2 separate regions of the Homo sapiens genome follow, and region 2 is linked to region 1. The links come from fine-mapping of genetic effects on gene expression. A gene starts in region 1. The other region holds a variant in brackets. All regions are shown on one strand. Distances are from middle to middle.

Region 1 (5,378 bases):
CTTCAACTTTCCCTATTTTCTTTCTCCCGGAATCTCACTCTGAACTTTTGCCTCTGCGCTTCCTTGCAGAGAACCGTGGGGACAAAGCGGCGCTGTGAAAGGGGGTGGAATGATCATCTCTACCCCGAAACTGACAAGTTGCCCCACTCCCGCCCCCTCTTGGTAGATCCTCCCCCACTGAGCGTTCATTAGCATAAAACTGGTCTGGCTGGGGACCGGTCCCGCCGCCTCCTCCGTGCGCGCGCTTTGCTGGGCTGGGGAAGCCAAGGCACAGAGTATCAGGGCCGCTGAGCATCCCAGTGCAAAGTGTGCACCTGCTCGCTGCTTAAGCTACTAACCTTTAAGAAAAGAAAAGAGAGAGAAAGACAGAAAGAAAACACACTTTGGAGAGAAAGAGACAGAGAACTCGAAAGAGAGATCGAGAGAGAGCGCGCTCCGTGGCTTTCCTTCCTAATCTCTCCAGTTCAGCTTCCATTGAGTCTCGGGCAATCGGTCACCTCCCCCTACCGAAGAAAACCTGCTGGTTGCCCTCGCATCTGCCCCGGGGCCACCGTACCCCTTTATTTCCTTTGCACACGCACTCGCTCACACGCGGACACACGCACACATGCGCGAACACACAGACCCCTCCCCTCGGCTGGCTTCCCCTCCGGGCTTCGGAGCTCAAGTCCCCGGAGCCCATCCCCCGGGATGGACCCGGTCTCTCAGCTTCGCGGGTCATTTCCCTCCCGACCTCAAAGTGCCCTCCTCGGGTGCTGGTCCGCTCCCTCGCCTTTCCCAGCGGGGCCCTCACCCGGAGCGCGTCTCCCCGCTCCCCGAGCCCTGCGGAGCAGGTCACGACCTCCCCCCGCCCCCGGGACACCGCTCGGCGCCACAGATCAGCCCTGTCGGTGCCGGGAGGCTGGCCGTGGAACCCAGGTCCTGGGGAGCGCACGAACGCGGACAGCAGCGCTGAGAGGGGTCTCCAGGCGCCCGCGCGCCCGGGGCAGGGGGCTGTGGCTCCAGCAAAGGCGCCGTCCTCCTCCCTCTCGTCCCCTCCGCCCCGAGGCTCGGCTTTCCCACATCCCACAGCAGCCCATCCCCGGGACCCAGAGGGCAAGGGGAGGACCGGGCCGAAGAGCGAGGTCTGGGCAGGGTGAGGTGCCAACTTCTCAGGGGGTCGGGCGCGGCTGGCGAGCCCCGAGCAGGGAGAGGAGAGGGCCGCGCTCGCCGGGGCGCGCGGCTCGCGGGCGCGCAGAGCGAGCGGCGCCGGGAAAGGAGCGAGGGCAGGCGAGCAGGCTGGTGGGAAGGGGCGCGGGCGGCGGGGGCTATCCCCCCCGACTCACCTTGCGTTGGTGCAGTCATTGTAGAGGGTCTCGAAGTCCTTCCTGGAGATGAGTTTGCAGCGGTTCACTCCTGGCTGGATGGCGCCCAGTCCCCTCAGGATGCGAACTTGTTCCACATTGCACACCACCGGCGTGATCTCCAGCCGCTTCAGCTTGGTGTAGACCGTATGCAAGCCCCCCACCAAGTGCTTCAGGAACAGGTCGAAAGCCTGGGGCAGGCAGATCAGCTCGCAGCCCTCCACCGTGAAGGAAGCCACTTTGGCCCCCCTCAGATCCACCATTTTGCACTCATTATTCTGAGGGGTGTTTTCCACTGGGGACGGGGTTGAGTACACGGGTTTCCCGGGGAGGGGGCCGCAGCTGCTGCTGCTACTGCTGCTGCTGCTACTACTGCTGCTGCTGCTGCTGCTGCTACTGCTGCTGCTGCTGCTGCCGGTGCTGGCGTTGATGGGGGTGCTGGAAGCGACGCCGCCGCCAGCGCTGATGCCGCCGCCGCCGCCGCCGCTGCCGTTGCTCGCGGCCGCCAGGTTGGGGTTGCAGTTGCTGCCACCGCCGCCGCCGCCACCGCCGCCTCCGTTGCCGCTGCTGCCGCCGCCGCCTCCGCTGCCGCCGCCGCCGCCGCCGCCGCCGGTAGAGGTGACTGTGGCCGCCGCCGCCGCCGCCGAAGCGATGGGCTCCGGGCGGAACAGAGTTGGCCCAGAGGACGCCGGGGGTCCGATGGAAGGAGCCGGAGACGAAGTCGCCGAAGAGGTGGAGGTGGTGGTGCCAGAGGAGGAAGCAGACGTGGAGATTGGGGGTTGAGGGGGGACCAGCTGGGTCGGAGGGATCAAAGCCGCCGGCACTGCCATGGTCACATATAAGGGGAAACAGACGGAGGAGAAGCGAGAGGAAAAGTTGCCACACACCCCCGGGAGGGGAAGGGGAAAAAAGGGGGGAGAAGGAGCGAGGGGGGCAACAACAACTCCGGGAGAGAACGAGAAGGAGAAAGGGAGAGAAGGGGGAGAAAAGGAGGTGAAGGTAATAAAGAGCGAGCGCAAGAGGGGCGAGCACGAGAGGCGCTCTGGAGAGGAACGCACAAAAGTGTCCCGCAAGTCGAAATGCGAGTCCTCTCCGGGGGCTGGGATCGAGGGCTGGTTTGGGGGTGGGGGTGGGGCGGGGAGGGTCGGCTGTTGTTGTGTGGGTCTCGCTCTAGCACAAAGTTAAGGATGAAGGTGAAAAGGAGGAGGTTTGAAGGACTTGGGCTCTCCCTGGCAAGTACATTGATCAAAGATTGAGAGGGGAATGACAGAGAGAAAATGAGCTGAAAAGTGCAGGCTGCCGGCTGGACGAGTTGTTGTTGTCACACGGTGCAGAGGGGAGGAGCTCCGGAAACTTGAAATACCCTTTGAAGCCGCAAAAACCTCACTCACTAGTATTAACCCAAATTATCCAACCAGGAACTCGGAGCAGAGACTCCGAGAGCGCGAGACACTGGAGAGGGAGCGTGCGAGGAAAGGAGGAGGGGAGGGGGAGGATACGGAAAGAAACTGTGGGAGGGACGGAGAGGAAAAGCCGGGGACACAGAAGTGGCGATCGGAAAAGGAGAGGGAGATCATCTACTTCTCTTCTACTACTACCGTTAGATTGCATGTCTCACATTCCATTTCGTCCGCGGGGACTGGTAATTTTTTCCAAAGCTTCTAAACAATCGCCCGCCAACTTAAAGAGGAGCCTGAGCGCGCCGAGCTCTCTCCTTCCAGGATTTAGGATCCATCTCCACGCGTTTTGGCAATGAGCTAGAAACGAAAACACAGCCCCCACTTCACGATTATTCAGAAATTATTTTGAGGAAAATTCACATGTAAGCAAAGCGTAATGTTCTTTTGCATCTGATTGTTTATTTCTCTACTAAATTATTTATTTATATAAAGATAGTGAAAATTCCAGGACAGTTTTCAAGTGGTGAGAAGAAAGTCAGTCCGAAATCGCTTAAGAATAATGGAAAGCTCTGTATTCAATTCCATATTTCCTAATAGGTTGTGGAAAGAAATGCTTGCCTTGATGTGGATGATTTAGAATAACTTCACTGTCTCCCCAAAAGCCAGTCAGAAATACCTGTTAAACCTAGAGCTATCAAGGAGATAAGGTATCCTTGAAGATTTAGAAAGTGGAAAAAGGGTTTTCTTACCCAAAACTCTATAATTAATTCACCTGTCTTACACAGTAACCAACTATCCTCATGTCCTTTAAGACCCAAAGCCAATTGCTAATGTGTTTTTTGGACAACACAATAGTTTTTTTTTTTTTTTTTTCATGTTTGAAAAGTGCTGCTGTAGTTTTGGAAAGTCCTTTTCAATTTGTCAGTAAATATATGTTTTGTAAATAATGGGAAGAACAAAAACAAAGCTCACTAGTTGACTTGTAAAGACTTGGGTAGCTGTGCTTAAAACAACATGAGGCTGAGTTTAGACTGACTCTATTCCTCCTTTCCTTCCTCTTTCCTTTTCTTTTCTTTTCTAACTTGTTGCACTGAAGTATTTATTCAAGGATTTTTGACTAACATATCATTTGAATATGGGTCAAATCTATTTGCTGCTCATGTCTCCAAGTATCTTCAATTAGTTAGCCTTTGAACCGGTCCACACATGTTCAGTAAGTTCATAAGATATGAAGCAATGCTTTAGCATTTGACAGATTTTTAAAATAAACTGTTAGTAGCAGGTTCACAGGGTTGGGAAATTTTATAATAAAATTTTTGCCATTCTGGTGTTGAAATGATCACATTTCTCTATATCATTTTAAGCCTTTGAACTCTGTGAATCGCAGTGTCAAATAGTGCAGGAACTGTCTACCGAAAAATAGAAATATGACACTATGGACTAATTAGTGTATGATTATACTAAAATTTTTGGGACATAGCAGTTAAATCAGGAGGCTTTCCTGGGAGATAAGAATTCAGAAAATCGATTGTTGCAGAAAAGTCCATGAACTTCTGCAAGGACAACTAAAGTTTAAACAGTTGTTTGGCCTGGTTAACCAATGTATTGTAATACATTCAGAAATAATTTTTATTTATGTTTCAGTCTTCAAATTTGTTATGGGTAAAAGTAGGAATTCAATATATATCACATACATCAAAACACTTCCTTAAGTATTTTTGCATGTTTTAGAAAATATTACTTTTTTAAGACATACCAAACTACTATTATAATGAGGGGAGGGGAGGAAGAAAGTATTAAGCCCTGAAAAGCTAATTTTATTTTCGAATTCTATGCCTAACTTTAATAAATTTTGATATGGTTTTAAAAGACTAAACTATAGTCTCATTATTTTAAGTTCTAGACCCACAAATGGAAGAATGGGAATTAAATGCCGAGCATCTGCCATTACCATTCTCATTTTTTACATTTCCTTAAACTATCACTCACCCAATACCTGACACATTCGGAAGCTACAGACAGGAGGTAATGATAGCAGCCCAAGCCATAATCCCACCTTGCTTCGAAGCAAACTCCAAATTTTCTACTGCAGGGAAACCTTTGCCTCCGAGCACGTGCTCCACTCAGAAGCAGGGCTGAGAGACATTTGCCCCCACCTGAATAAGAGCTCTCCAGCCTTCCTTCTCCTGACCTCAGGTCTCAAAATCAGTTCAGGGAACCACCACTTACCCCTTCAATCAAACAATAGGATTAGAAAAGGCATATAGCACAAATTAAAATATGTAGGAAATAAAAGCCTTGAAAATTTTGAAGGTTTTATCTCTTTTTTCTTTCCTTTTTTTTTCTTTTTCTTTCTTTCTTTTTGAGAAATGTTGCCAATGAGTAAGGCAAACAGTTATTTAACAACAACAGATAAATCAACTTAGAGATTTTGAATTCTCACTCCATTGCATCTTTAGCTTTTAGAGCTTTTGTCTTGCTTGTTTATTGTTTTACATCTCCGCTTGTTTCAGGTCCTCTCCATCTCATCTTCCCCAACCTTCACTCAATTTGCATAAGCAAAACTCAAAGTACTGTAACTGATATTAGAAAATTCTCCCTGTGTTTTGTGAAGACGTATTGTGCTGAAATCAAT
Region 2 (5,378 bases), 72 kb after region 1:
CAAAAGAGCTGATGTTAATGAAGGAAGTGCCCTAGCGAACTAGTGCTGTCTCCAGTGAACTATCACATCCTAGGGCATAGTGGCTGACTTAATGGGTTAACTTAGGATTCATAATAAAATAAAGTCTTGCCTGAAAGATAATTCTGTTTCATTGAAATCTCGGAAAGAACTTGTGAGAATGATCATCAGTATTCTATGACAAATGATAGTCCAGTAATGTAGAAAGTAGTGGTGGACTTTTTCTTCATTGACCACTGTTAATCCATTAGCAACTTAATTCCTTTGAAATGTAACTTCTTCAAAACACTTAAGGCTGTCATTTTTTATCACTGAGCATCAGAGTCCATCAATCATTGCCAAAAATTGTCAATCACAGTCAAATGAGGGCATTTTCAGAACTAATGGATAGGAACATTTTGACCTCATGTTTTTCAAAACCTTAAAATCACATGCAAAAGAATATAACTTAGACTCCATCTTCTGTTACTGGTAACTTTAGATAACCTTAGAGATTTTCAAAGTGTATTTTGAATACATAGTGCTAGATTTGTTTAATGGCTCATACTTTAAGAAATCAGAAGCATACATAGTGGAAAATTCTAAAAATGAGAAACATGAGATCTGGGTTCTAGTCTCCGACTTCACTACCATATGTGACCAAGGGCAATTTCTTTACCCACTCTTAGAGCTCTGTTGTCTATTTTCTATAATAGATACATAATATCTTACCTTCCTAGTGAGAGAACTGTGAAAATGATCTCATGCAGTTTCCTCCCACTTGGAGATTTATTACCATAAATCTTTTACCTGCAGTTGAAATGCACAAAAACAAACTATAACCAAAACAAAATAAAGCAAAAGAGACTCAAATTGTTTCTTTAGATATATTTTCTCCAAGACATAAACCTCTACCTTGTATATTTTGTCTTCCTGTATTTTTAATTTTCTACCAAAGTCCTTTTAGTTTTCAGGCAAGCTAAATGATTAGCATCAAAGACAGTCCCTAGAATTTCTGGCTGAGGTTAATTGTGACAGTTGTGAGTCTGACAGTTGCATCTTCATTTGCTGATTTTCCAAAGTCTAGCTGCATAAAGACCCAGGATTGCCAAATTATGGGGAAAATACCAGTAAATCTGCTTCTACTTCTTTCCTGTCTACTACCACACAGTCCTGGGTTGTAGCTCAATGCCATGTTTCACGAATACTGTGTATGTTTTCCTGCAATGTGTACCCCTAAGATTTGAGATTTGCCTGTTAAATTCCACAATAGGTAAGTTAAAACCTACCTGCTGCTTTTTTAAACTATAACTTTATTTTTGACAAAATTCTGTCTTCACGTTTAAGTATTGACCTTTCCTATATTCTTAACAATTTCTGTCTACAGAATTGCATTCACTAGGGTGAAGTTTCTCCGTGGGTTTTTGTTTGTTTGTTTGTTTGTTTGTTTGTTTTTCAATGTTTGAATTAAGAAAACAACCATCCTTTCTGCATTCGAGGAAATCCAAGGATAACCTAAACATTTTCCTTAGGAAATTCATAGGTGATTGAGGCTCCTGCCAACATGAAAAGTTCACTCACCCAGGAAAACTTAAAACATTTATTTAATTATTATTTGAGTGGCTCCTATGAGTCAGATACTTAAACAGTACAGCCCTTAAGGTTCCCATTATCAGTAGGCTCATCTTTTTCTTTAATGTCTGAGTCCGTGTTCCCTAATTATCCGTTGCCCTTTCTTCCTTTTTACAAAAAAGAGTGGGAAAGAGTGCCTCTAGGGTTGACCTAGCTCTGACAAAGCAAGTGGAAATAAATGAGCAACGTTTCTAGAAACTACACCAAAACGGAAGTCACCATTCCCTCTTCTCACGTTCTCTAAGACAGCCAAAAGTACACACAACACGGGACAAATGCCCTATCACCCCAGGGAGAGTTTGACTTTTTATACACAAAAATCGAGGAGGTAAAAATCAGTGCAGCAAAGGGGTTGAGGATAGTAAGTTAGTTTTATGAACTAGAGATAAAAAATTTTTAAATCCTTTGCAAGGTTAAAAGGTATAAATATATCAGTATGTTAAAACTATTATTGATAAGAACTTGGAGGAAAATACAAATAATATCAAAACAACATAGTTTTTTTTTTCCTACTTATTCCTGTTAATGCCTATAATATATAATGCCTATTAATATAATATTAATGCCTATAATATAAAAGGTAAGGTAACATTACTTTCTTGCTTTCTAGAAAATTGTTACATTAAACATATCACACATAAATCTAATTTGGAGCCATAAGTTTTCATTATTATAAATAATGCTATTGCAGAGATAATTTTATTTGTGTCATCTTGAAAACAATATAGACTATCCAACATTAAATGAAATTTAAGTGTATTTCATGTATGTTATTTGTGACAAAAGAGGTAGTGTATATGCCAAATTTTGCTAAAATAAGGACTTTAATGCAACCAGACACTGATTCTCTGGTGACTTCATACATCACTTTCACCACTCTGACTCATAGAGACAATGCAAAATTCATGAAAGCAAGGAAAAATATGATAAAATTTGTGGTATTTTTTTGTTTGTTTAGTTTTATTCTTAGCATTATTTTGTCACCATTTTTATTTTTAAAATATAATACACACAATTACTTTTTTTACTGCACTTCAAAGAACTTTACAGTTTTAAATTATTTTATTCTTGTATATCCCCTCTCAGAAAAAAGTGAGGGAGGTTGAAGTAAAGCGATTTAACCATAAAGGAAGGTAAATTTCTGTATGGTGTTTTTTGCAGGAGACATAAAGCATGTCA[A/G]TTATATCCGTTAGTGTTCATTTCAGATTCCAGAAACCACACCAGTTATTTCAAGAGAAAAAATTTGGCATTGAGCATTGTTAAGCATGTAATGAAGAAGTGAAAGGGCACAAAGGGTACATAAATTATCACAGAGGTAGAAACCACAAAAAGCAGCTTCCACTCCCAGGACTGGAGAAACAGAAGAAGGGGCTATTATTGCAACCTGAGTGTTGGAGAAGGGGTCACACAAAATTGTAAGTCAGTCCTTCGAGAAGGATGTGCTACTACGTGGTGTGGGTGTCTCTGATCTAGGAGGAGGGGATGGGGGTGGCTCTGATCTAGGAGGAGGGGCACTACAGGGCTGGGACTCTATCCTCTGAAGAGGGGGTATCAGCCAATTGATGCTTCCATTTTTAGTGGGGTTGGGGAAGTTATTTCTGAAAGTGTTGGAGCAAATGCAAAGTGGAATTAGTTATTGCTACCAGAGCAAACATTTATTGTCAGGATGAAGAAATGTTGCTGGGTATTGCTGAGAGGAGCTGAAAGCAAACAGGAGAGAATGACAACCTTCTTTTGCCTTTTTCTCCTTCAAGTTGCCTCTAGCACCTATGAGTAGAAGTCTAACAGAGAGCCAGTTGGTAAGAGAGAAATATGGTTTTGCAGAGCATATAAGGTGGGTGGGTGGGAAACATAAAAGACAATAGCTCAAAAATCAGCACCTAAGGTATCTAACATCTGCTGATATGCACCCTGTGACTGTCTAACAAAAACTAAGGGAATAGGCTGAGCATGGTGGCTCATGCCTGTAATCCTAGCACTTTGGGAGGCCAAGGCAGGTGGATCACTTGAGGTCAGGAGTTCAAGACCAGCCTGGCCAACATAGTGGAAAACTGTCTCTACTAATAATACAAAAAATTAGCCAGGTGTGGTGGCACGTTCCTGTAGTCCCAGTTACTCAGGAGGCTGAGGCAGGAGAACCGCTTGAACCTGGGAGGCAGAGGTTGTAGTGAGCCGAGATCGTGCCACTGCACTCCAGCCTGAATGACAGAGCCAGACTCTGTCTCAAAAACAAAACAAAAGAAAACAAAACAACAAAGAAAAACTAATGAGATAGAGGCTGTGGCTTATTTCCAATTCTTTTTCTCCCATTTGAATGTAAATAATATTCAGACACACGCATGTGTGCATGCAAGGGCTGCAATGAACTGCAATAATTACAGAACCCTGGACTAAATAAGAGCCATAATAAATGAAAATGGGAAAAAATGCAAGATTATAGTTAGTTGAGATATAAATTTAAGGTAAGAAAGGGGTGACAGTGGCCAGGCACAGTGGCTCACGCCTGTAATCCCAGCACTTTGGGAGGCCAAGGTGGGCGGATCACGAGGTCAGGAGATCGAGACCATCCTGGCTAACACGGTGAAACCCCATCTCTACTAAAAATACAAAAAATTAGCCGGGTGTGGTGGCGGGCGCCTGTAGTCCCAGCTACTCGGGAGGCTGAGGTAGGAGAATGGCATGAACCTGGGAGGTGGAGCTTGCAGTGAGTGGAGATCGCGCCACCGCACTCCAGCCTGCAGCCTGGGTGACAGAGCGAGACTCCATCTCAAAAAAAAAAAAAAAAAAAAAAAAAAGAAAGGGGTGACAGTATGTGGCAGATCATAAGACTCTATTATCCAAAATGGAGAGCAATATTTCTGGTTCCAAATTCTCTTCTAAAACTCCATTAGTCCTCATCAAGAATTAGACTCTGTTTCCCCTTCCATTGAAACTGTACTGGCCTTTGTGACTGCCATAATGAATAGAATGTGGCATAAGTGACACTGAGCATCTCTAAAGAGTAGGTGTTAAAATAGATATACCTTCTCTTTGACCATCTCTCTTGGGATACTTGCACTTGAATCTGGCCACCATGTTGTATGGCTACCTAAGCTACCTAGAAGAGCTAGATTAGGTGATCTGCCCAACAAACCCCACAAAAATCCCAGAAGATTGCCAGTATCAATTTCTAGACATGGAATTGAGAAAGCTTACAGATGACTCGAGCTTCCAGCCTTTGAGCCACCTCAGTTGATGTTGAGTGCAGCAGTGATGAGCTATCTCTCTGGAGACTGTAAAATGTGCAGATTAATAAAGCAAAATATGTTTACTTTTCAAGCAACTAAGTTTTGGGGTGGTTTGTGATGCAACCACAGTAATTGTAACAGATTTTGGTCCCAGAAGTTGTATGCTGTTATAACAAACTTAAAAACTGGCTTTGGGAGCAGGCGGTAGGTAGAAACTGGAAGAACTTTGAGGAGAGTGTTAGTGAAAATCTAAAGGGCTTTTCTTAATGAAAGTTTGATTGCCCCAGAAGAGACTGTCAGTAAGAGTTTAAGTAAAAGTGACAAAAATGATATTGGAACCAAGAAATAAGGGGATTATTGTTATGCAGTGACAGAAAGTTTACAACACTATTGCCTGAGGTAACGTGGAAAAAGGAAAACATATCTGGTAAATTGGATGATCTAACTAAGAAGATTTCCAGGTAGAATACTGAAAGTCCACCTGGTTTCTTTTTGCTGTCTGTAATAAAATGAGAGAAGAGA

The links.
Region 2: its variant is fine-mapped to the expression of DACH1 in blood mononuclear cells (TOPMed, PIP above 0.99). The same link has a PIP of 0.9 or more in whole blood.

What each region holds. Positions count from the first base shown.
Region 1 is chr13:71,864,597-71,869,974 of GRCh38, forward strand. It overlaps DACH1 (dachshund family transcription factor 1), which reads right to left and starts at 2,608. Exons shown (of 11, transcript NM_080759.6): 1 at 1,326-2,608. The coding sequence starts at 2,173.
Region 2 is chr13:71,936,474-71,941,851 of GRCh38, forward strand. No RefSeq gene overlaps it. Among named protein-coding and RNA genes, the nearest start is that of DACH1, 72 kb to the left of the region's middle. The variant A/G (reference allele first, on the strand shown) is at 2,809.